Regions from separate parts of the Homo sapiens genome. Here regions 1, 2, 3, 4, 5 and 7 are each reported to be linked to region 6. The links are microRNA targets in miRTarBase. Many come from high-throughput screens and were not tested one by one. Region 6 holds a microRNA gene; each other region holds the end of a gene's coding sequence.

Region 1 (4,348 bases), not on the chromosome of region 6:
TGTTTTAGAGCTAAATCCACCATCTCTTTTCCTATACCACCACACCACACCACCCCTTGAGTAGATGAATAGATAGATGTGAAATAATGCATGTGCTCAGTGATGGGCAAAACATAACACACAGAACCATAGCTGAATTTTCAACCACAGCCAAACAATCTGGGTAGGGTCTCTTCAGAAGCTACCGCAGCATCTTGACAAGGGTGGAGGATGTCGCCTCCACGTGGCAAAGACAGACCCTTTCCTACAGAGAAAAAGAGACAGGTCTGTCGAGCTGGCCTGCTCCCTGCTTCTGAAGTCTTAGTCATTGATTTTTCTATCACTTAGTTAAGTCACTAACCCCCCTAGGGCCTTATATAAATTTTTAAATATAATTTTTGAATTTATAATACAGAGGGTTTTTAATTTTTCTAAGTACAAAAAAAAAAAAACCCTCAATACCACCTCTGTGCCCCTTCCTCCTCATCCTCATCTTCATTCCCCACCACTGATTTCCTGCTTCTCCCTTGGATTTAGTTTCAGGTGAGAGGATCCCTTCTCTCCACTGCTTTCCAGGAGCCAGAGGTCTGCGTCCTTCATGCCAGCAAGCCCAAGGCCAAACAGAGGCCAGGCAATCAATAAGCACTTGCTGGAGGGAAAAGGCCAGACTGAATGGAGGAATCCATCTCTGGGAGTTGTCCAGGGTCAAGGGCCTCCTACTGACACCTGTGCTGAGCACCAGTGGGAAAGCAGTCACCTTTGCTCAGAGGGCGGAAGGGTCAGAGGGGCAGGTGCACCTGGTTCATCTGCTCCTAGTGAGGTGCAGAACTAAAGGGACAGACACCTCCAGGAGTGGTGATGACCTCACACTTGACCTCTGTCTTCTGCGTCACCAAAAAAAGAGCACTTTTGCATAAACACTGCAGAAGACTCCACTGCACTGTTCTAGAAAACAAGGTGTTCACAGAGATGGTAAGCACAAAGAAATGGAAGGAACTCCTCTTCCAACTCCCTGCCTCGCACTTCTCTACCAATCACCTTGAATGACTGGAGATTATTCTGCCCCATCTGCACCATGGCCTGATTTGACCCGGCTTCTGGGGAAGTGCCTGCAAACAGGCCTGGTGTGAAGGGCAGCCTCTGGCCAGGGAAAGGCCTTCCTCAGGACCAGTACCAGCTCCTGTTTGCAGATGGTCCAAAATCACTGACTGAGAAGGGGCTGTGTACCTTGCCAAGAAAGTGGACTAATATTTTTGGGAAGTTTTAATTTGCTTCAATTAAAAATTGAGGGCAGTTCTGAGCAAAACAGAAGTAGGTGAATTTATTTTCTGGGCCTCTGCACAGATCTTTCTGGGCCCTCAGCCTCTGCAGCTGTTTCCAAGAGGCCTCTACCCCAGCCAGCATTTCCCAACTAGCCGGTTCCATGACTCCTACCATTCCCCCCCTACTCTCCCGCCAAAGCAGGCCAGACCTGCCAGGGAGAAACTAATCTTAGAAATCATCTTTTTTCTTTCTTTGAGACGGAGTCTTGCTCTGTCGCCCAGGCTGGAGTGCAGTGGCACCATCTTGGCTCACTGCAAGCTCCGCCTCCCGGGTTCACATCATTCTCCTGCCTTAGCCTCCAGAGTAGCTGGGACTACAGGCGCCCACCTCCACCACTAATTTTTTGTATTTTTAGTAAAGACAGGGTTTCACTATGTTAGCCAGGAAGGTCTCCATCTCCTGACCTCGTGATCCGCCCGCCTCAGCCTCCCAAAGTGTTGGGATTACAGGCGTGAGCCAGTGCACCCGGCCAATCTTTTTTCTAAATGGAAGTGAATGGCTTAATTACCCTTTTCTGGGGAAAATTGTGTACATGCACTGAGATTTTAAGCAGATACACAAAAATTGGGTAAGAATGCTTGAATCTAGAGTTAGGGGGTCAGGCATATGAGAGCAACTCACTCTACATTCTTAAGTACAGTATACATTTTTTTCCTGTATACATTCTTTTAAATACATTTTAAATAATTTTAAATAAATGTAAAAGTACAGGATTTTCAATGACCCTTTTTCATTTTTAAAAAGTTCGCCCCATGGATTTAGAGATGTAGTGGGCTGGTTAGGCCAGGCAACCCTTCCCACATCCTTTCCAGGTAGAAGGCCCCAGTGACACAGCCCCAGTACTGCTGTTCCCACCAAGCAGTCGGGTCACAAAGTGGTCAAGGCCATAGACCTGACACAAAAAGTGAGCTGGATTAATCATTCTGCCTCACTTCAGAATCGGAACCAAGAACCAGAGCCTCTCTGCACAACTGTGTGGCTGTAATGATCTCCATTGTGTTCATTCTTGGGTACAAGAAACAGATCTCAGCCCAGCTCAAGTTGGAGTCGGGGTTTGTTTAGTTGGGACTCTTGGTGGCTCATACTTGCTTCGAATTAGCTTAAGCCATAGAAACAGGGAGGGGAGGGCTTCTTTTTTAGATCATGTTACCTAAAGTCACAGGGGTTTCTGTCTTCGGGCACAACTAGACCCAGGGGCTTCAAAGATATCCCCAGAGTCTGGCCCTGCTCTCTCCATCTGGGCCATCTTCCTCTCTCTCATGGTTCCACTTTAGGAAAGCGCCTCCCCACAGCCAGCAGCTCCAGGCTTATCCTCACAGCAACCCTGAGAGGAAACTTGCCTCCTTCTTGGTTGCTCTAGTCAAATGCCTGCGCTGGGGCTTCATAAGCCAAACGAATTCACATGAGGATTCCTGAACCAATCACTGGGGCCAGACTTGGAGACAAGAGGTGAGGGAGTGGGGCTGACCATCCAGGCCTCCAGGCTGAGTGAGGCGGTGCTGAGAAGGCAATGGCAGGAAGCACCAGAGGTCACCACTCAACTCCACACACCCTCTCCCCAGACACCCTCTGCGATGGCCTGAAGTCCTCACTACTTTCCATGTAAAGTTCAAGAGAGCAGGACCGTATCTGGCCCAGCTACTTGTTTGGCAGCAATTCCATGCCGGGCCACATGACAAGTCACTGCCAGCTTGGGGCTGTGTGCCTGTGGGTCAGGAGCTCTACTTGATCTCCCATGCTGGGACCACAGTTGGGTTGGAGATGGGGTCTCATGGCACAAACAAGGCTGCTTGGAGCTGCCCATTCAGGAAAGGTGATGGGTGGGATAGCTTCTGTCAGAAGAGGTTAGGGGAACTGCAGGCCTTATGAGTGACTCTAAGTACCACACATGACCTATGAGTTGGAAACAACTTTATTGATACCTGAGAAAAAGTGCAGGAAAAATATTCCTCCTGACCAGGTGGCCTGTCCCCTGAGGCCAGATCATTCTCTCGCCTCTCCCTTAAGCCCTGGGTCATTTGGGACCTCACTGGCCAGCACCCAGAGGCTGAAGACATCCACAGCCAGAGCCTGGAAGCCAGACCCAGAGACCAGGAGAGGGAATGTCTACAGCGTGGCTCCTGAGGTCAGGGCCAAGGTCAGCGTGGGACCCTCATCGGTCAAGGGCCAGCGCCTCTTGGATCACTGTCCGGAGTCCGATGGAAAACAGCTCCTCCCATGGTTCCCGGATCCAGGCAAGCAGGGCTGTCAGCTGCTCCTGACACACCACACGGAGTGCCCAAAAGCTCTCCAGCCGGGACACCTGGCAGACCGAGCAGTTAGCAAGGCGAGGCTCATGGGGACCACACCAGGGTGGGTACAAGGGAGGTCTCTGCGAAGGCCTCACTGTCTCCACCTTGGCTCAGTGCCTCTCCCCTTCCCCAGGCCCATGTCACTCCCCATAAAAGATCCTGACTCTGAGCTTTGTAAACAGAATCCAGCCGACGTTTACTGAAAGCCTCCAGAGGACCTGTCTTTTTCATCTTCCCTGTTGTACAGAAGATGCGGGCTCAATTTCAGGGAACTGTGGATTCAATTCCCGGCTCCACCACTTTGGACTGGGCAAACTGGTTAACATCCCCAAGCCTCAGCTTCCTCACCTGTAAATAGGACCAGTAACCGTATCTCCTCAGGTGGTGGTCACAAAGGCCAAACGGCTGGCATACAACCGGCCCAATCCTGCCAACTCAAAGCTGCCGGAAACCTCACTGAAAGCCTCGTGGCCCAGCTAAATGGCTGGGCTCCCAGTCCAGGTGTCTCCCCTGCCTACAGCTGCCTCCCTGACTTGATATTCATCCAAGCCTAGAGTCCCCCAGTTCCTCCAACCCTAGTTCTCTCATCTGTAAGTGCCATCCTGCCACCAATGCCCAGGGTTCCTAGACCCATTTCCCACCCTGCCCTCATGGCCCCAACCTGTGCTCACCATCTCCCCTCCCTCCCTCTCACTGGAGATACACATACACACCTCATCGTAGAAGAGCAGCCGCAAGTCCTCAGGGGCTGAGCG
Region 2 (4,309 bases), not on the chromosome of region 6:
TGGTGAAGCTCCTGCGTGAGGAGGAGGAATGGGAGGCCACTTTAGGTCCAGATAGGGAGAGTCTGGAGGGGCTGGAAGTAGCCCCAAGGCCACCTGCCAGGATCACTGGGGTTGGGGCAGTACCTCTCCCTGCCTCTGGCAACAGTTTTGATGCGAGGCCTTCCCAGGGCTACCGGCGCCGGAGGGGCAGAGGCCAACACCGAAGGGGTGGTGTGGCAAGGGCTGGCTCTCGAGGCTCAAGAAAACGGAAACGCCACACATTCTGCTATAGCTGTGGGGAAGACGGCCACATCAGGGTACAGTGCATCAACCCCTCCAACCTGCTCTTGGTAAAGCAGAAGAAACAGGCTGCAGTTGAGTCGGGAAACGGGAACTGGGCTTGGGACAAGAGCCATCCCAAGTCCAAGGCCAAGTAGGCTCGGGAGAACAGGGCAACATTTCCTACCACAGGCCAAGGAGACAAAAGAGATATTGGAAGGAGGGGAAAGAGAAGCCCAGACAAACAGCAGATGAGTTGAGTGGGGCAGAGGGACAGGGCAGCCAGACCAAGGCCAAGCCTTCTCACCCTTGGCCAGCTGGAAGGGACTTCAGCAACCAAGACCACCTGGCAACAGGCTCAGTGGGGGTCAGGTCCAGGTCCCCGAAGAGGTGCTGGAGAGGAAAGCAGGGAGCCACTGCATCCAGCACATGGGGTGCCTGGGCCTCAGATGGGGACCCCAAAGAAGCAGAAGCTGAAGAAGGTACGGCTGGGGGTTCTGTCCTGCTCATCCAACCACCCCTAAATACCCACCCTGTGGACTTTGAGCTGAACATGCCCACTGGCCCCCAGGCCACATGGGACCTGGAGGAGCCTACCTGGGGCCTGCCCCTGCCAGCAGGTGCCAGGGCTGGTGAGGAAGAGCTGGGGGGCAGAGGTAAAGCCCTGCAGGGGAGGCCACAGGGTCCATCCCGTCTTCAGGATCATCTACACTGCACTAGGGGAGCCCCAGGAAGGCAGCACCCTGGAGGCCCTGTGCCAGTGAGGACAGGAGACCCTAAGGCCCCGGGAGCCCAGTGCCAGCCAGAGGTTGTGCAGGCAAGGAGACCAAAGATTGATGAGAAGACCCCCAGCAGGGGTACTGGGTACCCGGCAGGCCAGTGCCCTCACAGTTGACTTGGACCAGGGTGGCTGTGAAGGGAAGTCTTTGTTGCAAAGGAGGAGGAAAAGGGAGGACTTGGTAGGGTTTTGTTTCTTCTGCTTGTTTCTGTACAGGGCCACCAGACTCCTGGAGAGATCAAGCAAGGAGAACCTGGGGCTGCCATGGCCAAAGCAACTCAACAGATGCCAATGCCAATTCCAAGGCCAGCCACAACCCTGCCACCTTGGGGAATCCAGCCTGGAGGCATCCCCTAAGCAGCCAGCCATGGCCTGGGTGGAGGCACCTGAAGACGTCTGTCCCAAACTCCCCCAGCCCTGAGCTGGGAGATGACAGGGGGAAAGAGGCCCTCTCAAGGGTGCCAGATGCCTGGGTCTCCCAAGAGGGGTCCCCCAACTCACTGTTCCCGGGACAGGCTGCCCCCTGTTCCAGGAAGCTCATCCTCACCTGTGTAGGCCCCTGTAGTGACCCACGCGTCCAGCAGACGCCCACCCACCGCTAGCCGTTGTTCCTGTGCAAAGTAGTGTGCTATGCACCCACCCAGGTGGCCGCCTCTGGGCCCAAGGCACATGCTGTGAGCTTCCTGTGAGCCCAGGCTCTGCTCACTGCTGTCCCGCGTCATGAGCACCACCTCTGCTTTCCCTGTGTAGATCTAGGCCAGTGGCTGCTTGTTCTTGTGGAGCTGTGTGTGTTCTTCTCTGAGCAGCTCCTCCCCGGAGTCCCCCAGCACAGTCCCAGGAGATGACAGGAAGGAAGCACCAGGGCAAGGCGGACGCTCACCCTGTGACCACGATGGTGACCGTGACTGTGGGAGGAAGAACTGGACCCAGGACGGAGCGGGGCTGCCCTGCCTGAGGCTCCCGAGGAGCTTTGTGCTTTGGTGTTCCACCCCTGTTGTTACTCATGACTCAGTTTCCTTAACCTGGTAGGGTGTTCCCTGCTGTGTTTTCCAGTGTCCTGTGACTGTCCTGTGCGGGCCATAGGGCAGGGCCCTGCCCCAGCAGATGGGCTTGGGAGGGGACTCCCTAAAGCCAGTGGACACTGCCAGAGTCTACCTTCCTGGCAAGAGGCAGACCCCGGGGCCCTCAGGAAGGAGGGAGTTGGCAGCGGGGGCTGCAGCAGGAGTAGGAGCAGATGAGGCGTCTTGCCAGGAACCTCAGGAGGAGGGGGCCCGGGACCTGTGTGGGACCTGTGTCCTGTGGTGGCCGTTTGCAGTTTCTCTCTGTGTTGTGATTCCCTTCTCTTCAACGTTTTCAGTACGTGTTTCTCTTCAATAAACTTCATTCAGTGTTCCAGCCGGCCTCGCCTCTGCTGTGGGAAACTGGGGATGAGGTTGGCTGGGCATGGGGTTGGGGTGGAGTGAGGGCCACAGTGGCTTTGTTAACACTGGTGTATACTTGGGGCTCGGTCTGCAAGGCATTCTAGAATGCCCTATCTGCGCATGTTGGTCATGAGCTAGGGTTCACGGCCCACGGACCCAGGCAAAGAAACCCAGCTGAGCAGGCTGGATAGTCCCAGTAGACAGGACACTGGTAGGCCCAGGCAGTGGCTGGTTGGGTCCTCAGGGCACTGGTTGAGCTTCTCAGAAATGAATAACATATTTAAGGAAGGGTGAGGGACAGCAGGCTGGACCAGTGGCCCCAGGATCCCTTGTATCACTATTGGGCTTCCACACCTGGAGCATCAAAACCAGGCCCATCTCTGTGAGTGTGTGTGAGATGGTGAATATGTGTGAGTATGCGTACTAGTGATTGTGTGAGAGTGAGTGTAGGAGAGTTTGTGTGTGTCATGTGTCAGCGAATGTGTGAATATGTGAGTGTGTGAGATGGTGTGTGAATATGTTAATGTGTGTTTGTATTTGAGTGTGAGTATGCATCAGTTTTTGTGTGTGAGTGAATGTGTGTTAGTGGTCAAATGTATGTTTATGTGTTTAATGTATATGTGTGTTAGTAAAAGTATGTGAATATGTGAGAGTGAGACGGTGTGTGAATGTGTGTATGACAGTGAATGTGTGGGTGACTTTGTGTTGTTGAGTGTGCACATGAGTGAATGTGTGTTTCAGAGTGTGTTTATGAGTTTGTGTGTGCATATGCGTGAATGTGTGGAATGGGTGAGTGTGTGAGTATGTGTGTTAGTGTGTATGAGACAGTTTATGAGAGGGTGTGTGAATTTTCGTGTGAGTGCAAATGTTGGGTGATTGATTTTTTTTTTATTTCTTTAAGGGATCAAGAGGGTTGGAAAGAAGGCAGAGAGAGGTAGAAGTTTCTTTGCCACCAAACAGCAGTGAGACTTTTGTTGCCTCTAGGCTGATGGCCCTAGAGCTGGGCCTACTAGCTAATCATCCATTTCTGACCCCTGGCACATTCCTATTTTTAAGGTTCACATGGCTTCTTGGCCTTTTGGCTACGATCAAGTGCAGTATCTATTTTAAGGTCCCTAATCTAAAAATAGATATGTGTTACAGTTATTGTGTGATTAAAGCTGATAGAAACATCCTCGTATGAATCTCTGTGGACTTTTGTTTTCCTTTCTCCCGAGTAAATACCTAGGAATGGAATGGCTGGGCCACAGGGTAGTGGTATATTTAACTTTATAAGAAACTTCACACAGATTTCCAAAGCTATTGTGACAATTTATACTCTAATGAGCAGTGCTCGTTTCTTAGGGTACTCCAAAAAATCTTGTATTGCCAGCTTTAAACTTTTAACCATTCTGTTGGGTGACTCACTGTGGTATCTCACTGAGGCATTAGTTTGCATTTCTGTGATGACTAATAATATCGAGCACTTTTTCATGTGCTTATTAGCTATCTGTCTTCCTTAGCGAAGTGCCTGTTCAAGTCCCTTGCCTAGTTTTTACCTGGCTTTTTAAATTTTTTATTAGAGTTGTGCAAGTTGTTAAAATACTCTGGATACAAGTACTTTGATATGTGTGCTGGGAACACTTTTTACCAGTTGTGTCTTTCTTATGCATATTCTTAATGGTGTCTGTTCATAAGCTGATGGGTTTAATTATAATGAAGTCCATTGCATCATTTGTTTCTTTTTACAATGACCACTGCCTGGGTCTTGCCTAAGATATCTTTCATTGGCCCACATTTGCAAACATATTGATCTATGTTTTCTTCTAGAACCTCTGTAGTTGTAGCTTTTGCATTTAGGTCTTAGAATATA
Region 3 (4,348 bases), not on the chromosome of region 6:
AGTGTGGCATCGTATGCAGGTCAGTCTCAACAGCTGCATGCAGTACTCCTCCTGGCTCTCTGTGACTCCTTGGCCATGGAAAGCCCACACTTACATATGCTAAAGCCTCCATTCTTCTCTCTGCAGGGATGACATGCCAAGCTCGAAGCTCCTACATCACCAGTGAGATCCTGTGGGGTTACCGGTTCACACCTGTCCTGACCCTGGAGGACGGGTTCTACGAAGTTGACTACAACAGCTTCCATGAGACCTATGAGACCAGCACCCCATCCCTTAGTGCCAAAGAGCTGGCCGAGTTAGCCAGCAGGGCAGAGCTGCCCCTGAGTTGGTCTGTATCCAGCAAACTCAACCAACATGCAGAACTGGAGACTGAAGAGGAAGAAAAGAACCTCGAAGAGCAAACAGAAAGAAATGGTGATGTGGCAAACCTGGAGAATGAATCCAAAGTTTAGTGCCCTAGCTGGGCAAACCCTTCTCTTCTCCCCCCAACACAATCTTTCCTTGTCTCTCATTCTCTTTCTTTTTCTGTCTCTCTTGCTTTGTTCTTTATTTGTTTATATTTAATTTTTACATGACCAGAAAACAAATCTTCAAGGTGTAAAATATCTACCTGCCCTCTCTCAGTTATTCAGATTGACAAGGTAGACATGGATTTGATGAAAGTGCAAAGTGCCCTCATTTGTGGCCCAAGCCTGGTCTCCTCCCAAAATACTACACATCCAACTCCTGGAGATTTCAGTTACTTACCTGCATGTGTTGTACAATACCAGATCACTCAAAAAGGTGTGTCAAAGATTTTACCTGGGATATGACAAGCAAGGTTTCTGGTGCCTATTTATTCATTCAGTGAGACACAGAGTGGAGCCCTCAGTTTTATGGATCCCAATTCATTTCATCTACTACAGGGTGAGGTGCTTGCCCCCATGTGGGTGTGGCAGTTACAGGGCCCAGGTGAGCTGAAGACAAACCACTGTACATATATATGCCTTATGTAATTATTTTCTTTTTGTAATTAGTAATAAAACCCAGCATGTACAAAAGTACCATAGAACAGAACTGCTAAATACTGTACATAGATGTATCATTAATGTAGGTTTAGATATATAACTTTAGAAATAAGAAGCAAAAAAAAAAAGAAAGAAAGAAAGATTCCTAACATGCAGTAGGCATTTCTGTTTTGATGTCTGTGTTTTCCAGGTTATTTTGATCCAGTTGACGGCTGGCCCTTCAGTGCATGGCCTTTGTTTGTGTCTCAGACTGGCAGACGTTAGGGTACCTCACTGTTCCCACACGGATCCTTTCATTGAATCCAACAAGCCATAGGTCTGGGGGAAATTGAGAGGTCTGGTAGATGGCAAAACCCACCACCAATATGCTGATATACTGTGAAATGTTACAAAACAGATGTCTTTTTTTAAAAGATAACAAGGGCCTCACTAACTGGCCTGGAGGAGGGGGAATACCAGGAAGGAAATATTCTCTAGCCTGTCACCAAAGGTATGTTTTTACTTTTCACATGAGCTCTTGCCCTTTGTAGTACAATAATTTAGGAAACTTTTCTGCAAAACCATTGATTCTCCAGCTGTAGTTTCTCTACACTCTTACAATGAGACATGGTAAGTTAGCAGAAGATGGTTTGGGTCTAAAGCCGTGAAATTCACAAAGGCATGTAGTGAGTGGCATGCATTATAATCATCGACCTCTCACTTTGACTCTATCTGGCTTTCTGAGAATGACATCTCGCCTGTCCCTGGGGCTTATCCATCAGCATTTCTTGCATTGTGATCTTTTATTATTTTGAAATGACCAGAGTTCAGTATTCAAAGATTAGATCAACAATCTTGATGATTGTCTAAGAAATGTCTCTAGAGTATGCCACAGGCTAGAAATCAAATCCAGTGTCTGTCAATCAAAAGAAAACAAATAAAAAAATTCCAGCCTTAATTCACTTTAATCTGCAAAAAGGAAAGAAGGGAGGAAGGGAGGGAGGAAGGAAGGAAGGAAGGAAGGGTATTTGTACTGGAAATCTGAATTTTAAAATGAAAAAAATAAGGAAACAAATCTTAGATCAAACCTCCGGGGCAGGTGGAGATTTTGCACTGTTACAGATCTTTCACATTCACTTTGCATTTATAAGCTGTTTGTTCTTTAACACAGTTGCCCATCATAAATATTCATTGAATGGATCCAAGTTTATTTTCAGCTCCTACAGCTGTGCTCAGTTTGAGGCTCTGCACCATGGAGGTCAAAGAGATCAAACTAGCTGTCCCTCTTTGTTTCCCTTGCCTTCCCTGACCTGATCGCACAGGCCTTTGGTGTAGTCTGGGGACCTTGTCTACTAAAAAAGAAGTCCCAGGATAAGGAAAGTGGCTCCTAAATATAACCTCGGGGCCTCTCTTCTCCCATCTCAGAGACCTTGGATCAGGACAACTGCCTCTTGGCACTGACTTTAAGGAAAACAAAACTGTTGGCTATAGCCCTTTCCTGTTTGCCAGCATTTCCTTTTTTGCATTGAATCTCTGTTGAATCATTTCTTTATTTCGCACACTCTAAGAAGGAGGTGGTGGTCCGGGAGGAGGAAGCTCGATACACTCCCCTTGAGGCTGCGGGGAGGAGCCATGGCTTGACCTCTCTGCAGCCTAATGAAGGGCACTCTTGGCTTGGGGAGCTCCCCTGCAACCTTGCCAGGGTCGCAGGGCAGGCCATGGCAGGCACAAAACAAGATGGAATAGGGGCGGCAAAATGTCTTCTAATTTAGCTCTTGAAGACTCACTGGGCCTTTTTAATTCCATTGCTAAGGTTTAAAGGACAGCGCACACCCCCGTGTCTGGTTGGAAGAGCAAGCAGCTCAGGGCCTCATCCCTGCTTGCCTGCCCTTTAGCACAACTGAACGAAGAGCCTTGACAACACGTTGGCCACGTGCACCTGTCAGTTCTGTGTCTGTGACGGGCACCCAGATGTGAGGTCTCTCCCTGTTTCTCACTGTCTTTGTTGTCAATGTAGTTGGAGACAGAACTTGAACCAAATCTCGTTTTTGTAATGTGAGCCTCTGAATCTTTACATGGGGATGCTCCTGAAGAACCTTTTACTAGAATGTCCCTATCAAACATGTCTATTTTTCTACAGTTGTTAACACAGTTTAACAGTGTATTTTGTGTCAACTGTTAAAATTTGGAACTGAAAGTTCATTGAGACTGATTTTCTAAGCAGCGAGTAGTGAGTGAATGGTGTTTTCCATTAAGACAGCTCAACAAAATTGACCCCACAATTTCCACTCATTCTATTCCGCAATATCCAGTCCTCATTCCCTCAGTCACTCCATTAGCAAACCAAGTGCAATGAGAATTTTTTAAAAGTCTCTTTTAATACAACAGTATCCATAACTAATGAAGATCACTCTCAACTAGATCCTTTGGTCTGTTTGGTTAATGTATTTGAGTCATTTTTCCATAAAGCATGGTGGGATCCGTGAGCCAGATAAGAATTTGGAATTTAAGGGTTATGGTTTGCCACAGTTGACCCCAATTTGACAGAACAAAGTGCTCCTGGATGGAAGGGCAGGTTCAGCTGCAAGCATGACCCCCCACCACAAGGCTGCTGAGTTCCTCGGATTCTCACCTCCACCCACCCCAACGTGCTCTCCAACTGGAAGAGCACCCATTCATTTATAAATCAACTTTATGGAACCAATAAAATCATTTCTGTTTTAGCTGTCCCCTGGGTAAGCTATACTCTTTTACATTAACATAGCAAATGTCAACTTTTCTGTTCCTTCAAACATGGCCTTCCAGCCTGGTTGTTCCAGCATATATCCCCTCTATGTCCATGAGGCAGAACTCTCTCTTCCCCCACTCCGTTCTTCCATCTATCCCCATCCTTTGCTGTTTCCCTGGTTCTCCAGTTCCAATTCTATTGTTTTAGTTCAGTACCTTATGTTCCCTAACAGAAATCCAGCTGCAAATGTCAACCTATTTCTTAAGCACAATTTTCTCTTGCAGGTCTAACCAAGCTAGGGCTCTGAAATGTCTATTTTTCACTGCACTCCAATTTAAAAATTATTCATGACTTCATTTAATAGTCTAAATTTTGAATTCTCCAGAGCAACATTCTTATGCTTTCCATCCCTACATTTTCTTACATTTCAGTTTTCTTACTTTTTTCCCCTTTGCTTTTTTATTTAGATTTAAGCCAGTGTCTTTGGGATATTTAGAAACTGCTTACAAAGGTGGGAACTGGTGGACAGAGAAAGGGGGCATAAGAATGCTATTAGAAAACTACCTGAACTCACCAGAAGAATGGGAAATCATTTGATTTGCTGAGAGAATACAATTAAAATACTCATAGTAAA
Region 4 (4,348 bases), not on the chromosome of region 6:
AGTACAAGCCATGGGGGTGGCCTCTCAGCACCCTGTCCACTGCAGAGGAGATCAGCGACCTCACAGACCAGGTGAGTCTCAGTGGGAAGAGCATCCAGGAACTGGAGAAAACCAAGAAGGCGCTGGAAGGCGAGAAGAGTGAGATCCAGGCTGCACTGGAGGAGGCAGAGGTCAGGGGCTGGCTGCAGGGGTGGGTGGACACTGACCTGCTGCTCCACTGGCCATCCCCCCCCCCCACCCTACCCTGCCTGCTCTGTATCCACAGGGGGCCCTGGAGCTGGAGGAGACCAAGACGCTGCGGATCCAGCTGGAGCTCTCCCAGGTCAAAGCAGAAGTGGACCGGAAGCTGGCAGAGAAAGACGAGGAGTGCGCTAACCTGAGGTGTGTCCATCCTTCTCCCGTCCCCACCTCCCGAGAGCAGAAGGGGAGGGAAGCAGTGTGTACTCTGCTCTCTAGTCTGTCCCTCCCATGGGACTTTGAGGTCCGGGTTGCTGTCTCCATTCTAGCTGTGAACCTCGGAGATGCTAAAGGACTTGCCCAAAGTCACACAGTGGGGGTGGAGCCAGTCAGTCCACCTCTGTCTGCCTGGGCCTCACTCTTGTCCATGAACTTGCTCTGATGGGCCACAGGCAGTCACAAGAGACTTTAAATCGGGGAGGGGTGACTCATTTGTTCTCAAAATGGGTTCGTTTCCAACGGTCCTTGGGCATTTGTAAGGACAGGTATGCCCTTACGAGACCCCCTTTCATGCCACCCTCCTCCCATAGGCGCAACCACCAGCGAGCTGTGGAGTCCCTGCAGGCCTCCCTGGATGCAGAGACACGGGCCCGCAATGAGGCGCTGCGGCTCAAGAAGAAGATGGAGGGTGACCTCAACGACCTGGAGCTGCAGCTGGGCCATGCCACCCGTCAGGCCACAGAGGCCCAGGCTGCCACGCGGCTGATGCAGGCACAGCTCAAGGAGGAGCAGGCAGGGCGGGACGAGGAGCAGCGGCTGGCAGCTGAGCTCCACGAGCAGGCGCAGGCTCTGGAGCGCCGGGCCTCGCTGCTGGCTGCGGAGCTGGAGGAGCTGCGGGCTGCCCTGGAGCAGGGCGAGCGCAGCCGGCGACTGGCAGAGCAGGAGCTTTTGGAGGCCACCGAGCGCCTCAACCTTCTGCATTCGCAGGTGGGGACAGGAGTCCCTGGGGACAGAGCAGGTGCAGGCCTGCTGGCTGGCTGGCTCTGAGACTCCTCTTCCCCTCAGAACACAGGCCTCCTAAACCAGAAGAAGAAGCTGGAGGCGGACTTGGCCCAGCTGAGCGGGGAGGTGGAGGAGGCTGCACAGGAGAGGCGGGAGGCTGAGGAGAAGGCCAAAAAGGCCATCACTGATGTGAGGCTGGGCAAGGGCTGTGGGGAGCCTGGGACAGAATTGCAGAGGGACTTCCCTGAGGCTGGGCACCTGACCAGCTCCTCCTCCCCAACAGGCGGCCATGATGGCCGAGGAGCTGAAGAAGGAGCAGGACACAAGTGCACACCTGGAACGGATGAAGAAGACGCTGGAGCAGACGGTGCGCGAGCTCCAGGCCCGCCTTGAGGAGGCAGAACAGGCCGCCCTCCGTGGCGGGAAGAAGCAGGTGCAGAAGCTGGAGGCCAAGGTGTGTGCAGCCCCTCTAGTCCTTGGCGCAGGCAGGGTGGGTGACCCAGGGGTGGGCTTGGCATCAGGCTGTCCCCCTGCCTGCAGGTACGGGAGCTGGAGGCTGAGCTTGATGCAGAGCAGAAGAAGCACGCCGAGGCCCTTAAGGGCGTGCGCAAGCATGAGCGCCGTGTCAAGGAGCTCGCATACCAGGTGGGCGACAGGGTCTCCCTGGGGAGTGGCCCTGGAGCTGGCCCAGCCCAAGCAAGCCCTGAGTCCCCCTTGCCCGCCCAGGCCGAGGAGGACAGGAAGAACCTGGCTCGCATGCAGGACCTGGTGGACAAGCTGCAGAGCAAGGTCAAGAGCTACAAGCGCCAGTTTGAGGAGGCGGTGAGTGCGCTGGGGCCTGGACACCTGGACCGGGCACCCCAGCTCTGCCCCAGGGTCTGTGGCCAGGTGAGGCATCAGCAGCAGCTCCACCCTCCAAGGTCAGTGACCCAGAGGGAAGAGAGAAGCTTCTAACATCTCTGGGGAGATCAGACCTAGCTCCTTCTCATGGAACAGACCCCATGTGCTTTCCCCTGGCCAAGGCTGGGGCTGCCTCTGAGGGGTGGGGCAGGCACAAAAAGGCACATGAAGTTGGTGCGTCCCAACTTCCTTATTCCCGCTGTGGTATTGGTGAGGATGGACAGTGGCAATAGGAACAAAGTTGAGAACCAGGAGGAGCTAGCTCCCTTCTTGGACTGGGGCAGGGACCAGAATAAGCATCTCAGTCACCCAAGCGGAACCAAGGCCCTGTGTGTGCCCCCAGGAGCAGCAGGCCAACACCAACCTGGCCAAGTATCGCAAGGCCCAGCACGAGCTGGATGATGCGGAGGAGCGGGCAGACATGGCGGAAACCCAGGCCAACAAGCTGCGGGCACGGACCCGGGACGCCCTGGGCCCCAAGGTGAGGAGTGGCAGGGGCATTGCTCTCTGTGCAGGGGGACTGTGGGGGCTGACAGGTAGTACTGCTCACTCAGCTATCCCTTTCTCCTCAGCACAAGGAGTGACGGCCTGACCCCCTGGGCTCTAAAGAGGAATGTCTGCTGTTGCACATCTGGCTGAGGCCACCTGCCCCGATCCTGCCATCTCTGCATCGCCCCCTGCTGCCTTCAGCCTTCCCTGGGCCCTGAATAAACACCACAGCCAGTTTCCTTCTCATTCTTTTCTTTGGGGTTCAGGAGGAAAAACACAGTCCTAGGGACAAAAGCCAGGTCCACAGCAGTCATTTTTAAAATAAAGTTATTTAATAGTCTCCATTTAATTGGTTTATTTGCTGTTAATAAATTGGCAACACAAGGAAGGGCCCCATGTCCAGGCTCAGGCAGGAGCGGCTGCCTCAGGCAGAGGCAGGGCAGGCACAGCTGCCCCGTGCCCCAAGGGATGGAGGGAAAGGCCCCTCACTTCTGGGAGAACCCCCTTGGATGAACACAGCGGCCAATGAGCAAACAGAACCAGAGGAGCTACAGGAAAATGAGGCAGAGGGGCAGGCTTGGGGGAAGGCAGCATTCTCTGGTACCCACCACCCCTGCCCAGGGCTCAGAAGCCTTTGCCTGGGTCCAAAGGCCAGGGACAAGGGAGGCTTGGCTCACAGATGGGGGGTGGGGGTCACCCATATCTTCCTCCCCACTCTGGGACTGACTGACAGCCAAGAAACCGGCAGGAGCTCACACAGAGCTAATGCTAAATGTCCTCTTACCTCTGGGTGGCCCTGGGCCCCAGGGTTCTGAAGGAAAGGTGGGCATGGTACCCTGTCCTCATTATGGGGACTGAGGCTCTCCATGACCTAGGGCCCTCAGACCCAGGGGGACCAAGGGCTTCTAGGACTTCCCTCCCACCAAGCCTGTACCCAAAGACCTGGGGCAGGCAGAGAGCAGCAGGGAGGAACGGGAACAGGGCAGGGCGTGTGGCATCGTACCCACGCTCACCCACACTGGCCCAGCAGCCTCCCGAGGCCTGGCCCAAGGTCACTCCTCAGTGAAGTCCCTGTCTATGTCCATGTAGGGCTCCTCAATGTAGCTAACGAGAGCAGAGGGTGACTGCCGGTCCGGGTTCAACAGGATGGACACTGTCTCCTTCCAGTATGAGAAGCTGATGCAGGAGCTCTGGGCAAAGAGGGAGGGGCTGGGGGGCGCCTGGAGGACCCAGGTCAAGCCCAGCACCGGGACACCCCTCTGAGAGGCCCTGGGTCCGCGGCCCACCCATCACCCCCTTGAGGGTGGGGCACTCACGTTCTCTAGGCAGGTGCTGTCCTTGTCCTTGTGCAGGTAGTGCTGCTGCCAGAAGCGCAGCAGGTTGTGGAAGTTGTTGAGCAGGAAGCCGGGGTACTTCTTGCTGTGCTCCATCCGCTGCAGCAGCCGCAGGTACAGGGGCAGCCGCTCTTTCCGTCGGGCCAGCATCAGGATCACCAGGCTGGTGTTGAGGCAGCTGACGTTCTCCTGCAAGGCCACAGGCCCACAGGGTCAGGGGCTGGTGGGAGCCCCAGTGGCCCCTGGTGAACCTGGGTAGCCATCAGGCAGGGAGGAGAGTGGCCCCAGGCCTCGGGCCACCCACAGAGCTCTCCCTGCACAGAGGTGAGATAGGACTGGGGGAAGGGGGCCCCCAGCAGCCCCAGTTTCCTGACTGAGCACCTTCCTCTTCCCCACGCCCACCTCCCACCCCACCTGAGGCAACAACACCTGTCCCTGTCCAGACC
Region 5 (4,311 bases), not on the chromosome of region 6:
TGAGGTGACATCACTTTGTCAGAAGGAAAAAGCAGAGTTGGCTCCGGTAAACACTGAAGGTGCCCTTCTTGATAATGGCAGTGTCGTACCAAACTGTGACATCAGCAATGGGGGCAGCCAGAAGCTCTTTCCTGCAGACACCAGTCCTTCAACGGCCACTAAAATTCATAGCCCTATACCTGACATGAGCAAATTTGCAACTGGAATCACGCCATTTGAATTTGAGAATATGGCAGAATCTACTGGAATGTACCTCAGGATAAGAAGCTTGTTAAAGAACTCACCCCGAAACCAGCAGAAAAACAAAAAGGCCTCTGAATAATGGCTTGACTTAGCACTGAGAGCTATTTAATAACTTTGTTCCGTTAATTAGTACTAATTAAGTGGATAGATAGAATGGTTTTCCTGTTTGTCCCTCCCATGTTTAAAAATCTATCCAAGGTTCATGTTCCAAAGTCAAGCCTATTTTAAAGAAAGACTGAGCTCACTAGTTCAGTATATTTTATTCTCACTGACAAAACTTGGGGGGAGATGTGAATATGACCTGGTTTAGAGAGGGTTTGTTAAGGTTTATACTATTTTTGGATTGTGACTATCCGTCGAGAGTGATGGTTTTTATCTGTCTTTTGTACATTGTTTTCCCTTTCTACATTTTGCTAATTATCCTGTATATAAGTTTAATATATCACTTTTTAAAAGAAAAAATTCTACCATTTTAAATTCATGTTTCAACTCCTACAACCAAATGAGAAAAATCAGGGATGAGCAGCTTTATCCCATTTGGGGTATTTTTGTAAGTGATTTACATGTGTCAATTTTAGTAATACTTTTACTTTTTTGTAACTTCATCCTTCATATATGCTTGCTATACAGGTATGTTCATCTTTGTGTACAGAGGTTTAATAAATTAGTTTTCATATACATAATCTAAGACTTTGAATACAAAAAAGTGATTCACAGGTAAAATCAGTGTATATAACCTTTTTTTTTTTTGAGACAAGGGTTTCACTCTTGTTGCCCAGGCTGGAGTGCAATGGCACAATCTCGGCTCACCGCAACCTCCGCCTCCCGAGTTTAAGCGATTCTCCTGCCTCAGCCTCCGGAGTAGCTGGGATTACAGGCATGTGCCACCACGCCCAGCTAACTTCGTATTTTTAGTAGAGATGGGGTTTCTCCACGTCGGGTCAGGCTGGTCTTGACCTCCTGACTTCAGGTGATCTGCCCGCCCAGCCTCCCAAAGTGCTGGGATTACAGGCGTAAGCCACCTCACCTGGCCGGTGCATATAACTTTTAAGTTTAAAAGTAAATTGTTGGCCAGGCGTGGTGGCTCATGCTTATAATCCTAGCACTTTGGGAGGCCAAGGAGGAAGGATCACCTGAGGTCAGGAGTTCGAGACCAGCCTGGCCAACATGGCAAAACCCCATCTCTACATAAATACAAAAATTAGCCAGGTGTGGTGGTACATGCCTGTAATCCCAGCTACTCGGGAGGCTGAGGCAGGAGAATCACTTGAACCTGGGAGTGGGAGGTTGCAGTGAGCCGAGGTCGCGCCATTGCACTCCAGCCTGGGCAACAAGAGCAAAACTCCATCTCAAAAAAAAAAAAAAAAAAAGGTAAATTGTAAAAATCAGTGGTAGCAAAACAAAAATAATGATAGGAATTGCAAGTTTGGGTGTTTTCAGTGGATTTCAGCCTTAAATATAGAAACAGCAGAATTTTTGAAAAGTAATTATTTTGAAAAATGAATGGCATGCAGCTAGCCTTTGTATAAAAATAATTTTCTAGATTTGAACCCTAATAGTTAAAAATTAAAAATTAAACATAAACATACTGCTTTTAATTGTCAGGTATATATATAAGATAGAGCTGAAACTGTGGTTTAGGTCTTTCTGTGGAATGCCATTACATCTTTATATTAGTCAAGTCCATGAAAATAAATGTTTAGATCGTCTTGAATTGTTAGTCTCAGGCAGTGTTATCCTGCTCTCAGGCCAACAGGGGGAGCAAAATAGAAACATTCCAGATATAGCTTTCATTTTTGAGAACTTGAGTAATCAGAATTTACTGTTCTGTAAAGAATAAAGGAAAGGAAAATTATAAAGAGAGAAATTTCTTTTTAAAGCCCTCACAGAATGTGCTAGAAATAGAATAAAATTTAAAATACTTTTGGCTTCTTTTCCTCAGCTTAAGTTCAAAATAAAAGCAATCCTTTACAGTTGTTTACATAGTGTTTTTAACCTGATCTCGCTCAGCATTTCTGTCAGGCAAATTATTATCACCACTTGGAAGTAAGGAAAGGGAGGCAGAGAGAGGTTAAAGGAACTTGTCGACATTCCAGAAGTGGTTCTTAAGGTGAGTGTTCAACTAAAGACTTGACTATTCCCTAAATCAGAGCAGTAGTTGTTTAAATGTCCCTTTAAGAAGTACTGCATTAGTAGAGTCACCTGTGAATACCAGAGGTCTCTTAATAGTTATCTCTTTGCCATTTACCAGACATCGTGTTAAGGTATTTTTGTGCATTACCCCATTTTCACCGTCACCACATTGGGTAGGCATTGTTAACCTCATTGTTGAGAGGAAATACACACAGCTAAATACACACATACTAAAACACACAGCTGATACACAACCTAGTAAATCTAAATCTAGATCTCTCTGACCCCCGTATCTGTGCTCTTAACTGCTGTACTGCCTCCTTGTCAAAAGCTCTACAAAAGCACTGATTCTTTTTTTTTTTTTTTTTTTTTTTTTGATACAGAGTCTTGCTCTGTTGCCGAGGCTGGAGTGCAGTGGCACAATCTTGGCTCACTGCAAGCTCCGCCTCCCGGGTTCAAGTGATTCTCCTGCCTCAGCCTCCCAAATAGCTGGGATTACAGTCATGTGCCACACACCCGGCTAATTTTGTATTTTTAGTAGAGACGGGGTTTCTTCATGTTGGTCAGGCTGGTCTCGAACTCCCGACCTCAGGTGATCTGCCCACCTCTTGCCTCCCACAGTGCTGGGATTATAAGTGTGAGCCACCGGGCGCCCAGCCAAAAGCACTGATTCTCAAAAAATGGGCTATTTCATTTGTTCAATTTTTGGGGGGTGTTGAGTGGGGGACAGGGTCTCGCTCTGTCACCCAGGCTGGAGTACAGTGGCATGATCACAGCTCACTACAGCCTCCACCTCCCAAGTTCAAGTGATTCTCCTGCCTCAGCCTCCAGAGTAGCTGGGATTACAGGTGTGAGCCACCACACTCAGCCTGTTCAGCCACTTACTGAGGACATACTTCTGATAAATGTTCTTCAGTGTGCTTTTCCGCATTAAAAAGGTGGATCACGAGGTCAGGAGATCGAGACCATCCTGGCCAACACAGTGAAACCCTGTCTCTACTAAAAAAAAAAAAAAATTTTAAATAGCTGGGCGTGGCGGTGGGCGCCTGTAGTCCCAGCTACTCGGGAGACTGAGGCAGGAGAATGGCGTGAACCCAGGAGGCAGAGCTTTCAGTGAGCCGAGATCGTGCCACTGCACTCCAGCCTGGGTGACAGAGCAAGACTCCATCTCAAAAAAAAAAGAAAAGAAAAGAAAAAATACTGTGGCCCAGCACGGTGGCTCATGCCTGTAATCCCAGCACTTTGGGAAGCCAAGGCAGGCATATTGCTTGAGGCCAGGGGTTTGGGACCAGCCTGGCCAACATGGTGAAACCCCCATCTCTACTAAAAACACAAAAATTAGCCAGGTATGGTGGTGCATACCTGTAGTCCCAGCCACTCAGGAGGCTGAGGCACAGAAATCACTTGAACCCGGGAGGCGGAGGCTGCAGAGAGCAGAGATCAGGCCACTGCACTCCAGCCTGGGCGACAGTGAGACTCTGTCTCGAGGGGGAAAAAAAGTGCTGGAATCTGCCTTTAAGGAGCTTATCCAGTACCAGGAGAAAATAGAGGGTTCCCTCTCAATTACAATACGATTCAGCTGGCAGCCATGAGAGGAAGGCAAGGTACTTGGGCCATTTTGTGGTGGTGAGAGAATCACCTGTGGAGGACTGACTTCAAATTCTCCGGACCACTGGATTTACTATTCATTTGGAGGGTATTTGAAGACTTCTGGAAATAGGTAACCATTGAACTAATCCTTAAAGCGTAGGTAGGAGGATTCATAGACAAAAATGCACATTGAAATGTATAGAAAGGCCGGATGTGGTGGCTCACGCCTGTAATCCCAGCACTTTGGAAGGCCGAGGCGGGTGGATCACGAGGTTAGGAGATCGAGACCATCCTGGCTAACTTGGTGAAACCTCGTCTCTACTAAAAATACAAAAAAAATTGGCT
Region 6 (4,348 bases):
ATCTCTTGACCTTGTGATCCGCTTACCTTGGACTCCCAAAGTGCTGGGATTACAAGCGTGAGCCACCGTGCCCGGCCTGCCTTGCCTGTTTGTCAGCTGCTGGCGTCATCTGCCAAGAACCCCCTCTCACGAGGGGGCTGTTCACCGCTTTGTTCAGTGTAGCACCCGCTGCCCTAAGGGTCTCACCCTGCGGTGAGTGCTGAGTTACAGTCCCGCCTCGCCTCACCAAGCTTTCCAGATATTTTGAGTTTTACAAATTGAAGGTTTGGGGCAACCCTGCATAAAGCAAGCTCACTGATGTCATTTTACCAACCATGTGCTTGCTTCTTATCTCTGGGTCAGCACTTTTTAGGAATAAAGTTTTTGTTGTTGTTTTTGTTTTTTGAGACAGAGTCTTGCCCTGTCACCCAGGCTGGAGTACAGTGGTGCAGCTCATAGCTCACTGCAGCCTCAACCTCCCAGGCTCAAGCGATCCTCCCACCTCAACCTCCCAAGTAACTGGGCCTACAGGGGCTAATTTTTTGTATTTTTTGTTGTTGTTGTAGAGTCGGGGTTTTGCCATGTTGCCCAGGCTGGTCTCAAACTCCTGGGCTCAAGTAATCCCCTCACCTTGACCTCCCAAAGCACTTGGACTACAGGTGTGAGCCACTGTGCCTGGCCCCTAAAGTATTTTTAATTAAGGTATATACATTGTGTTTTAGACACTTCGCAGCCTACAGTACAGTGTAAATCCTTTTTTTTTTTTTGAGACGAAGTCTTGCTCTGTGGCCCAGGATGGAGTATGGTGGTGCAATCATAGTTCACTGCAACCTCCGCCTCCCAGGTTCAAGCAATTCTCCTGCCTCAGCCTCTTGAGTAGCTGGGACTACAGGTGTGCAACCCCACACCCGGCTAATTTTTGTATTTTTACTAGAGACGGGGTTTCAACATGTTGGCCAGGCTGGTCTTGAATTCCTGACCTTGTGATCCGCCCACCTTGGCCTCCCAAAGTGCTGGGATTACAGGCGTGAGCCACCGCAACCGGCCCTAATTTTTTTTTTTTTTTTCAATTTTGGCTCACTGCAACCCCCACCTCCCGGTTCAAGTGATTATCGTGCCTCAGCCTAGCAAGTAGCTGAGATTACAGGGACCTGCCAACGTGCCCGGCTAAGTTTTGTTATTTTTAGTAGAGACGGGGTTTCACTATGTTGGCCAGGCTGGTCTCGAACTCTTGACCTCAAGTGATCCGCCCACCTCGGCTTCTCAAAGTGCTGGAATTACAGGCATGAGCCACTGTGCCCGGTCTAAATCTAACTTTTAAATGCACTGGAAAACCAAAACAGCTGTGTGACTCAGTTTACCCCGATGGTCTGGAGCCGAACCTGCAACATCGCCAAGAATGCCTACACTGTTGGGTGCAATCCTGTGCCTTAAATCTACTTCTCTCCATTTGATGGATGAGAAAAACAAGGTTCCGAGAGGTTGAGGGGCTCCCCAAAGCTACACAGCAAGTGGGGGCACAGCCCAAACTCAAGGGCACGTCCTAACTCTCAGTTCCTGGGTAGCCCGCTGGGGGAGGGGCTGGCTGGGAAAACCTTCAAATGTGCTTGGCAAGGACTCTCATATGCCCCCATCCCAGAAATGTAGTGTCCACAACTCACAGTGGGACCTGTGGCTGGCAGGCTCATCCTTTAGTGCTTATAAAGATGGAGACAATAACCTCGACCTCCTCGAGGGGTTGTGGAGATTACAGGAGAGGCTGTGAGTCACACACATGGCACAGCACCGGGTCTGTCTGTGGACAGCACTCACTGTCTGGAAGCCAAGGTTGTGACCATCGTGACTGCTGTTTGGGGACACTCCTATGCACTCTCAGTCCGTGGCTGGAGTAGAGACATCAGGGCCGCAGCTCATGGCCTGGAGGACCTGGGAGTGCTCCAGAGGACAAACTAGGATCTGGACAGGAGCCACCCGAGTCACAGAACACTGGGAGGGGTTGCTGTGCACACAGAAAGTAGCGGCGGCGGCTGCCGGGGCTCCTGCCAGGCACACACAGGGGTCTGACCAGAGCTCTGACCGAGTCATATTGTTCCCGTGCTGGCAGGCCTGGCCCCCACGGGTAAGCACGAGACCCACTAAGAGAACGGAAAGCCGGGCCTCAGGGGAGCAGCCACTGGGGAAGGGAAGCTGCAACAGGCACACAAGCAGGACTCCGGAAACGGTGGCTACATCCAGGGAGGCGTGGATGGCCTCAGGTGTCACCCCATGGCTCAGAGGCCCAGGGGTCACACCCTTGGCCAGACCCCAAGGGGGAACCTCTGTGTGTCAGGCGCCTGCCCAGGGCTGGAAGCTTCACTCTGCCAACTCACTGACTCTGTGCTCTGGTAACAAGCCCTCATCATTCCCATTCACGAGGGAAGTGGCTCAGAGGGGGAAAGGGACTTCCTGGGGACGCACATCAAGCAGGGGCTAGGGTTTGGGCCTAGGGCTGCCTGGCCTCCCTCTCCCAGTGGCAGGGGCTGGCGTGGTGGCCGGTTGGGGCAGGGGCTCACCTGGGCGGGGCAGATGGCCTCGCAGAGCTTGCAGGCAATGCAACGCTCCTCCCCGGATGGGTACCGGCGCAGCGCATGCTCCCCACGGAAGCGAGGGCTCAGCGGGCCCTTCTCGAACGGGTAGTTGATGGTGGCCGGTTCCCGGAACAGGTAGCTCAGGGTCATGCCCAGGCCTGTGGGCAGCACGGGTGTGGTGGGCAGGGGCACCCTCCTCCCCCATGCATCCGTGCCCACCCGGCACCTTCCCTGTCCCCTCATGCCCAGGACGCACCTCGGAAGAGCTCAGTCCACAGCAGGGTGCGGGCTGCCCGGTCAGTCACTGACTTCATGTCCATCTCGGGATCCTGCATGTTCACATACTCTGCAGAGAGGCGGGCAGGGAGGCCATGGCAAGAGGCCTCACACACTGTCTCCCTGGAGCCTCAGGGAGAGCAGCCTGGCCCTCACTTCCAGGTGCAACTGCTGGGCTACAAAGGGGCTGTACACTCACCACACCTCTCCCCAGCCTCAGCAAGGACCCTGGAGGCCGCCTCTGGCCTGAGCCCGTCCGTGCCTACCTCTCCCTGTGCTTGGGTGGCCATTGGAGCCCAGACGCACTTCCCTGCCCAACAGGGCTTGAAAGAGGAATCAAGGGGGGTAGGTGGGGGGCTTGAGCCTTTGCCTTCACCAGGGACTGGCAATAGGCACAGGTACCCATGGCTCACACCTGGCAACCCCCTCCCCATCACACCCAGGGAGCTCTGAGATCACACATGCTAACCTCGGCAATGATGGACCCTGCCCCTGTGAATCAGAGTCAGTCTCCATCACCATAATCATTTTAAAAGTGGAAACAGGCTCAGAGAAGAACGCCCCTGACAAAGCCAGGACTGGAACTCAGGTCTCTTCCCCTACTCCAGCAGGACCAGTCAGGAACACCTGAGGCTAGAGGCCACCCAGGTACTCACTGTAGGTGGCTGCCACTGCACTGCTGTGGAGGCTCCGGCCACCAGGAGGTCCTGCAAAAAGAAGGGCGTGACGTCATACCAGGAGACTGGACTCCCCTACCCCCAGCAAAGGCTTCTTTGGTCCTACCTGCACGTGCAGCCTGGGCCAGGGCCCGCAGCAGCATAGGCGTGGTCAGGCAGCGCATCTGGTGGCATAAAAAGGGATGGAGGGTGGGGTGTGCCCAAGAACCATCCTCTTCTGAGACTGGCACCGCAAGGATCCCAAGTCTCCACTGACATGTGTCACTTTGCCCTCTACTCGCACCCCATTGCTGTCAGAGGCACAGATGGCTTTCCTGTTCCCAGCGCCTCCCAGCTTTCCATCTGATTCAGCTTGGCTGAGCTACAATTCAGTTTCTGTGGACCCCAAGTTCTGCCTCACCTAAGAAACCTTTTAAATCCATCCTTCCTTTCTCCCTCCCAGAGATCCTGTTTCCCACCTTTCTGCTCCTCCCTTCATCCTCCCCAAATCTAACCAAAAACAACATTACCAGCCCCCGCCAGCATGCACTGAGAGCGAACTTTGTTAGCTCTCCTCCCCCAGGAACCGTGCCCAGGGGTGGAAAGCGCTGCCATCCTATCCTTACAAGGACTCCACGAGGGAGGCACAAATAAGGCGCTGGGACTCAGTTTGTTGAGTGACTCGCTAGGGCTGGGTGTGGTGGCTCACGCCTGTAATCCCAGCACTTTGGGAGGCTGAGGCAGGTGGATCACCTGAGGTCAGGAGTTTGAGACCAGCCTGGCTAACATGGTGGAACCCCGTCCCTACCAAAAAATACAGAAATTAGCCAGGTGTGGTGGTGGGCACTTATAATCCCAGCTACTCGGGAG
Region 7 (4,348 bases), not on the chromosome of region 6:
ACTCCATGAGGAGCAGCCTCGGGCTCCCTCTCCGCAAAGCCAAAGCCATTGCTCCTGCCTCCAGGGAGGAAGAGACTGAGGCCAAGCTATGGCCAAGAAAGCTGGCCACCCCAGACCCCCGCTCCTCCAGAGTAGCCCCCCTCCACCGGTGGCACATGCCTACCCCTTCAGGTCAGGGCTCAGGATTGTGAAGGGGAAGGTCCTCACCTCCAGAATGGTGGAACCCTGAGGACAGTGCCTCTCAAAAGCCAGTCCCTAGCATTGCACTCTGGGGAATATCAGCCTGAGCCTTGTCTGCCTCCCAGGCAGGGTCCATGTCTCAGCTAGGATATTTCTCATCATACCTTAACCACTGTTGGGGTCCCTAGCAGGGAACTATCAGCCAAACTGACATTAGCCAACCAGGACCCATTGTGTTACTTGCTCTCTCCATCGGTAATTCACATTTTCTCAGGAGCCATTTGATAGCTGAAATATTTTAAAGCCCCAGAGCTTTCATGCCCTGTGACCAGTTGGCAGGGGTGGGTGGGCTCCCCGCACACCACAGCACCACCTGCAAACTCTCACCACTTTTGCTTGTGCATGGAACTGTGGGATTATAAAATCATCTTATTTTCATTGCAGAAATTTCCAGAATTGAAATTCAAATATGTGGAAGAGGAGCAGCCCGAGGAGTTTTTTATCCCCTATGTCTGGTCTCTTGTCTACAACTCAGCAGTCGGCCTGTACTGGAATCCACAGGACATCCAGCTGTTCACCATGGATTCCGACTGAGGGCAGGATGCTCTCCCACCCGGACCCCTCCAGCCAAGCAGCCCTTCAAGTTCTTTTATTTCTGGGTAACAGAAGTAGACAGACAGGTTACTTGGTGTATCTTCTGTTAAAGAGGATTGCACGAGTGTGTTTTCCTCACACACTTTGATTTGGAGAATTGGTGCTAGTTGGCAATAGATAACTCAGCGTAGATAGTATTGCAAAAAGGGGAGGAAATACACAACAATAATAAATGTAAAAACCTGCTATTCAACATGCAGTTTTATTTCGAAGCCAAAAATCTAGAGCTTTCCCAAGATCCTGTTGCCTTAGGCACATCACACTTCAACAGTGCACACTATCCAACAGTGCACACTATTCAACAGTGCACACTATTCAAAAGCGTAGACTATTTTTTTGCATGTTCAAGATATTTGTTTTGGTCTTATGTGTGTGTGAGAGAGAGAGATTCCTTTGACATTAAGGAGCATCAATGAGAAAAGATGATGAGGCAGGAATTAATAAAGAAATGAAGTCGTGTGTGTTTGGTTGCCTGTCAGAGGGCACACAATTTCATAAACACCATGCCTGGACAATTTGATATTAATATTTAACACCTCTGCATCTTTTCTTAAAAAAGAATATGGGCCAGATACAGTGGCTCACATTTGTAATCCCAGCACTTTGGGGAGCCAAGTTAGCAGAATCCCTTGAGCACAGGAATCTGAAACCAGCTTGGGCAACATAGTGAGATCCCATCTCTACAAAAAACTTAAAAATTAGCCAGGCATGATGGCACATTCCTGTAGTCCTAGCTACTCAGGAGGCTAAGGTAGGAGGATTGCCTGAGCCCAGGAGTTCAAGGCTGCAGTGAGCTAAGAACGTGCCAGTACACTCCAGCCTGAGCCACAAAGTGAGACCCTGTCTCGCAAAAAAAAAAAAAGAAAGAAAAGAAAAAGAAAATGGCTACTTCTCATGAAGCCCAGATTAACTTTTCTGTGAATATGGCCTGTGAACTGTTGCTGGAATTAAATTGGAGTCTAGCACAAATTAAGTTAATCTACTCTGTATTAATCATTGGGAAAAAGAAAAGCTTCATTTGAAAACAGTCTTTTTCCTTCACCCACACTAATAGAAAAAGGAGAGTAATTTGTTCATACTGTATTCCACGTGGGATGAAAAGCATGTTTTGCTCTTTGTTTCTGGGCCGGTGTGATCCGTGTGTTGGTGCCTGAGCTGGAGGAAGGAGCTTCTTGCAGGGAAACAGCCACTGGGGCCACATTGAGGGCCAGTTGGGACCTTCCTTTCCAGTCACACTCTGTGTCCTCACGGGCCCCTTCACAGTCTAGATAAGGAGCCTAGTTTCATTCTCAAAGAAAAAGTATTTGGTCTTCAACATAGAAAGCACAAAAGCCCAGACGAGACTGAGCACACTGTTCGAATCCACTGCCAGCTCATCTGTGTCAGGGCTGGCTTCTCCTGTCCTGTGTCCCAGGGCTGCAGGCCCGTGTTATTTGAGTCCATCAAATCTTCCGAGGGCCTCGGAGGAACCATTCTCAGTCACCCCAAGCTCTGTAAAAGGTCAAAACACTGGCAGCCTCTCAGTGCACCACTGTGTGGGCTCCACACGGGAAGGCCTGGCCAAGCTGTGCTCTTAGAGGCTGTCGAGGTAGGGCAGGAAGCTTCCCTATCCTCGTCTGGATGGAATGAAACAGAGGTTCCCTAAGGCCAAGGGACTCGTGGAGCGCCCATCCCGGGTGGGGTCCCAGAGGTGAGTGCAGCTTGCCTCCTGTCCCCAAGGGGCTTGTTCTGTCAGGCCTCCTCCAGTCACTGCTGGAGTGGGGACTCTGACTCCTGTGTTCACCTCAGAGCCCATGTACAGGCTAGAGGTGAGGCTTGGCAACAACTTCTACTAATACTTAGCTTTGTGGCAGAGCCAGTCTGAAGGAGGAGAAGCGCTCTCAGCCAGCAGGGGGAGTGATGATTATCATTTCAGGTAGCAAGGATATGTATTTACTATGTGGGGAAATAATTTGCAACTTTAATTTGTTTCCAAAGCATTTTGATTGGCTTCCTTTTCCTTTAAACCAAAAAATTGTTTAAATGTTTAAGGGTCATGTGGAACAGCTGAGCTTCTGGCAGGACCACAGAACTGTCCTCTGAGTCTGAGGGCTGGGCAGTGCCACAGGACAGTCCCTGGGCTGCAGGACTGTCAGTGCTTGTTGTGTGAGGAAATGAGGCCCTTCAAAAACCCAGTCATCTTGACAGAGGGCACACTCCCAAGGAAGGCCTGACTGGGGAATCATACAGCCTCTCCTCCAGGCCTCTGGGCTCACTGAGGTGCCCCCAGAACCCTGATTGCCCTCCCCTCTTTCCCTTTTCTCATTCATCACACAGTAGAAGCACTCACTAGCTAACAGCTCAGCTGGGGCAGCAGCCTCCATGGAGGCCTGCAAGTGATGCTCCCAGTCCTGGTTCCCGCTCAGGAGGGAGGCCCCACCACGTGCATCACTGCCTCAGCTCTGCAAAGTCACCAGAGGCTTCTTCCTGATTTTTGTGAAAGATTTATTATATGGCAATAAATCTGAATGATAAACTTTCATTATACTTGCATTAATTTTGAGTATTAGTTTGCTTAGAAATTTTTACACGAAGTAAAAATGTGTAATGATGCAACACAGGATCATCGTGTGTTCAGATGGAAATTGGCATCTGATTTTACCCCAGATCTGAAGCTGTTACTGCATTGTGTCATTTTATCAACAAAGACTTCTGCCACAATATTTACTTTTAAAAGAATTTGTCCCTTTCAATAGCATCTTCCCTATCAAGAGTTCAAGGCACTTTGCAGAAGAGCTTCAGATTTCTAACTCTAGTTCCCACAGTCACCCGTTGAGGCTGGTGTCATACAATCTATGAACAACAACCTTGCAGCAGGACTGCCACCATTCAGCAGTGCAGACAACACAGCTCAAGGACAAAGACAGAGAAAGGAAAGAAGAGAAGGTCCCTGAAGGTGAAGCATAGAAAGTACACTGCACACACAGTTCTCTCTGGAAGGAAAGCACAGGAGCTGGGAAGTAGACGATAGAAAGTGGAAAGGACACAGGACCAGCATCAGAACACTCAGCAACTTCCTAAGAGCTTGCTAAGGTACATCCAAGAGAAATATTTAGTGAGGGAAACTTTTAAGCACTGGAATTGTTAATATATCATACTTTAAGCAACATTTCGTCCTTTAGATTCCGGGAGCCAGGGTTTTGCATTGGGTGGTAGAGCTCTCTGCATAATTGAGTCACCCTGTGCTTTTTTGCAGAGCCATAAATTTTTGGCACTTGCTGATACTTCATAGGCTGGAGTCTCTGCAAGGTCAACCCTTTGGGTCTCTTAATTCTTTCCTAGGCACTATCCTGCAATATCAGTAGTTGCCACTTGATTTTAGGGACTGATTATTAGGCCTTCTGACTCCAAATTCAGAACAATTCCAGTGTCCTACATCACCTCCTGGAGTCAAAGAGGTCAGTTTCTATTCAGTGATGAAGAGCTAAGCTAGCTATGCATATGAAGAACTGAGAAGTAGATTATAACACACAAT

The links. The annotated mature microRNA hsa-miR-4691-5p reads GUCCUCCAGGCCAUGAGCUGCGG and lies in region 6 at 1,883-1,905, opposite strand. An mRNA with a match to its seed (bases 2 to 7 or 8) in the 3' UTR can be bound and repressed. Matches are read on the target gene's strand: a 7mer-m8 pairs with bases 2 to 8, a 7mer-A1 pairs with bases 2 to 7 and ends in A, and an 8mer does both.
Region 1: miRTarBase lists STK11IP as a target of hsa-miR-4691-5p. Seed matches in the 3' UTR shown: 7mer-A1 at 3,249-3,255.
Region 2: the mRNA of PNMA3 is a reported target of hsa-miR-4691-5p. Seed matches in the 3' UTR shown: 7mer-m8 at 843-849, 7mer-A1 at 1,198-1,204 and 7mer-A1 at 1,947-1,953.
Region 3: the mRNA of KCNJ6 is a reported target of hsa-miR-4691-5p. Seed matches in the 3' UTR shown: 7mer-m8 at 1,447-1,453, 7mer-A1 at 1,974-1,980, 7mer-A1 at 1,986-1,992 and 7mer-A1 at 2,575-2,581.
Region 4: the mRNA of TRPC4AP is a reported target of hsa-miR-4691-5p. Seed matches in the 3' UTR shown: 7mer-A1 at 3,273-3,279.
Region 5: miRTarBase lists ZCCHC8 as a target of hsa-miR-4691-5p. Seed matches in the 3' UTR shown: 7mer-A1 at 1,363-1,369.
Region 7: miRTarBase lists DYM as a target of hsa-miR-4691-5p. Seed matches in the 3' UTR shown: 7mer-A1 at 983-989, 8mer at 1,991-1,998 and 7mer-A1 at 2,297-2,303.

Annotation. Positions count from the first base shown.
Region 1 is chr2:219,615,300-219,619,647 of GRCh38, reverse strand. STK11IP (serine/threonine kinase 11 interacting protein) reads right to left here. Exons shown (of 25, transcript NM_052902.4): 24 at 4,307-4,348; 25 at 3,197-3,604. The coding sequence ends at 3,455. It overlaps LOC124908064 (a long non-coding RNA gene), which reads left to right. Exons shown (of 2, transcript XR_007088701.1): 2 at 517-1,285. Among named protein-coding and RNA genes, the nearest start is that of SLC4A3, 10 kb to the left of the region's middle.
Region 2 is chrX:153,058,032-153,062,340 of GRCh38, forward strand. It overlaps PNMA3 (PNMA family member 3), which reads left to right. Exons shown (of 2, transcript NM_013364.6): 2 at 1-2,431. The coding sequence ends at 416. Among named protein-coding and RNA genes, the nearest start is that of PNMA3, 3.7 kb to the left of the region's middle.
Region 3 is chr21:37,621,263-37,625,610 of GRCh38, reverse strand. KCNJ6 (potassium inwardly rectifying channel subfamily J member 6) reads left to right here. Exons shown (of 4, transcript NM_002240.5): 4 at 127-4,348. The coding sequence ends at 452. All of the region lies in intron 1 of KCNJ6-AS1 (KCNJ6 antisense RNA 1), which reads right to left. Among named protein-coding and RNA genes, the nearest start is that of KCNJ6-AS1, 100 kb to the right of the region's middle.
Region 4 is chr20:34,999,526-35,003,873 of GRCh38, forward strand. It overlaps TRPC4AP (transient receptor potential cation channel subfamily C member 4 associated protein), which reads right to left. Exons shown (of 19, transcript NM_015638.3): 18 at 3,885-4,091; 19 at 2,879-3,758. The coding sequence ends at 3,621. MYH7B (myosin heavy chain 7B) reads left to right here. Exons shown (of 45, transcript NM_020884.7): 37 at 46-170; 38 at 266-381; 39 at 768-1,164; 40 at 1,243-1,368; 41 at 1,463-1,633; 42 at 1,720-1,824; 43 at 1,906-2,001; 44 at 2,423-2,560; 45 at 2,652-2,912. The coding sequence ends at 2,663. Among named protein-coding and RNA genes, the nearest start is that of MIR499B, 11 kb to the left of the region's middle.
Region 5 is chr12:122,469,508-122,473,818 of GRCh38, reverse strand. ZCCHC8 (zinc finger CCHC-type containing 8) reads left to right here. Exons shown (of 14, transcript NM_017612.5): 14 at 1-2,219. The coding sequence ends at 322. Among named protein-coding and RNA genes, the nearest start is that of ZCCHC8, 29 kb to the left of the region's middle.
Region 6 is chr11:68,031,467-68,035,814 of GRCh38, reverse strand. It overlaps MIR4691 (microRNA 4691), which reads right to left and starts at 1,918; the gene lies at 1,834-1,918. It overlaps NDUFS8 (NADH:ubiquinone oxidoreductase core subunit S8), which reads right to left. Exons shown (of 7, transcript NM_002496.4): 2 at 3,606-3,663; 3 at 3,479-3,529; 4 at 2,803-2,892; 5 at 2,532-2,704. The coding sequence starts at 3,663. MIR7113 (microRNA 7113) reads right to left here and starts at 2,951; the gene lies at 2,893-2,951.
Region 7 is chr18:49,040,481-49,044,828 of GRCh38, reverse strand. DYM (dymeclin) reads left to right here. Exons shown (of 18, transcript NM_001353214.3): 18 at 625-4,348. The coding sequence ends at 774. The region is part of intron 4 of DYM-AS1 (DYM antisense RNA 1); the gene reads right to left. Among named protein-coding and RNA genes, the nearest start is that of MIR4744, 7.1 kb to the left of the region's middle. RefSeq lists an enhancer at 1-438.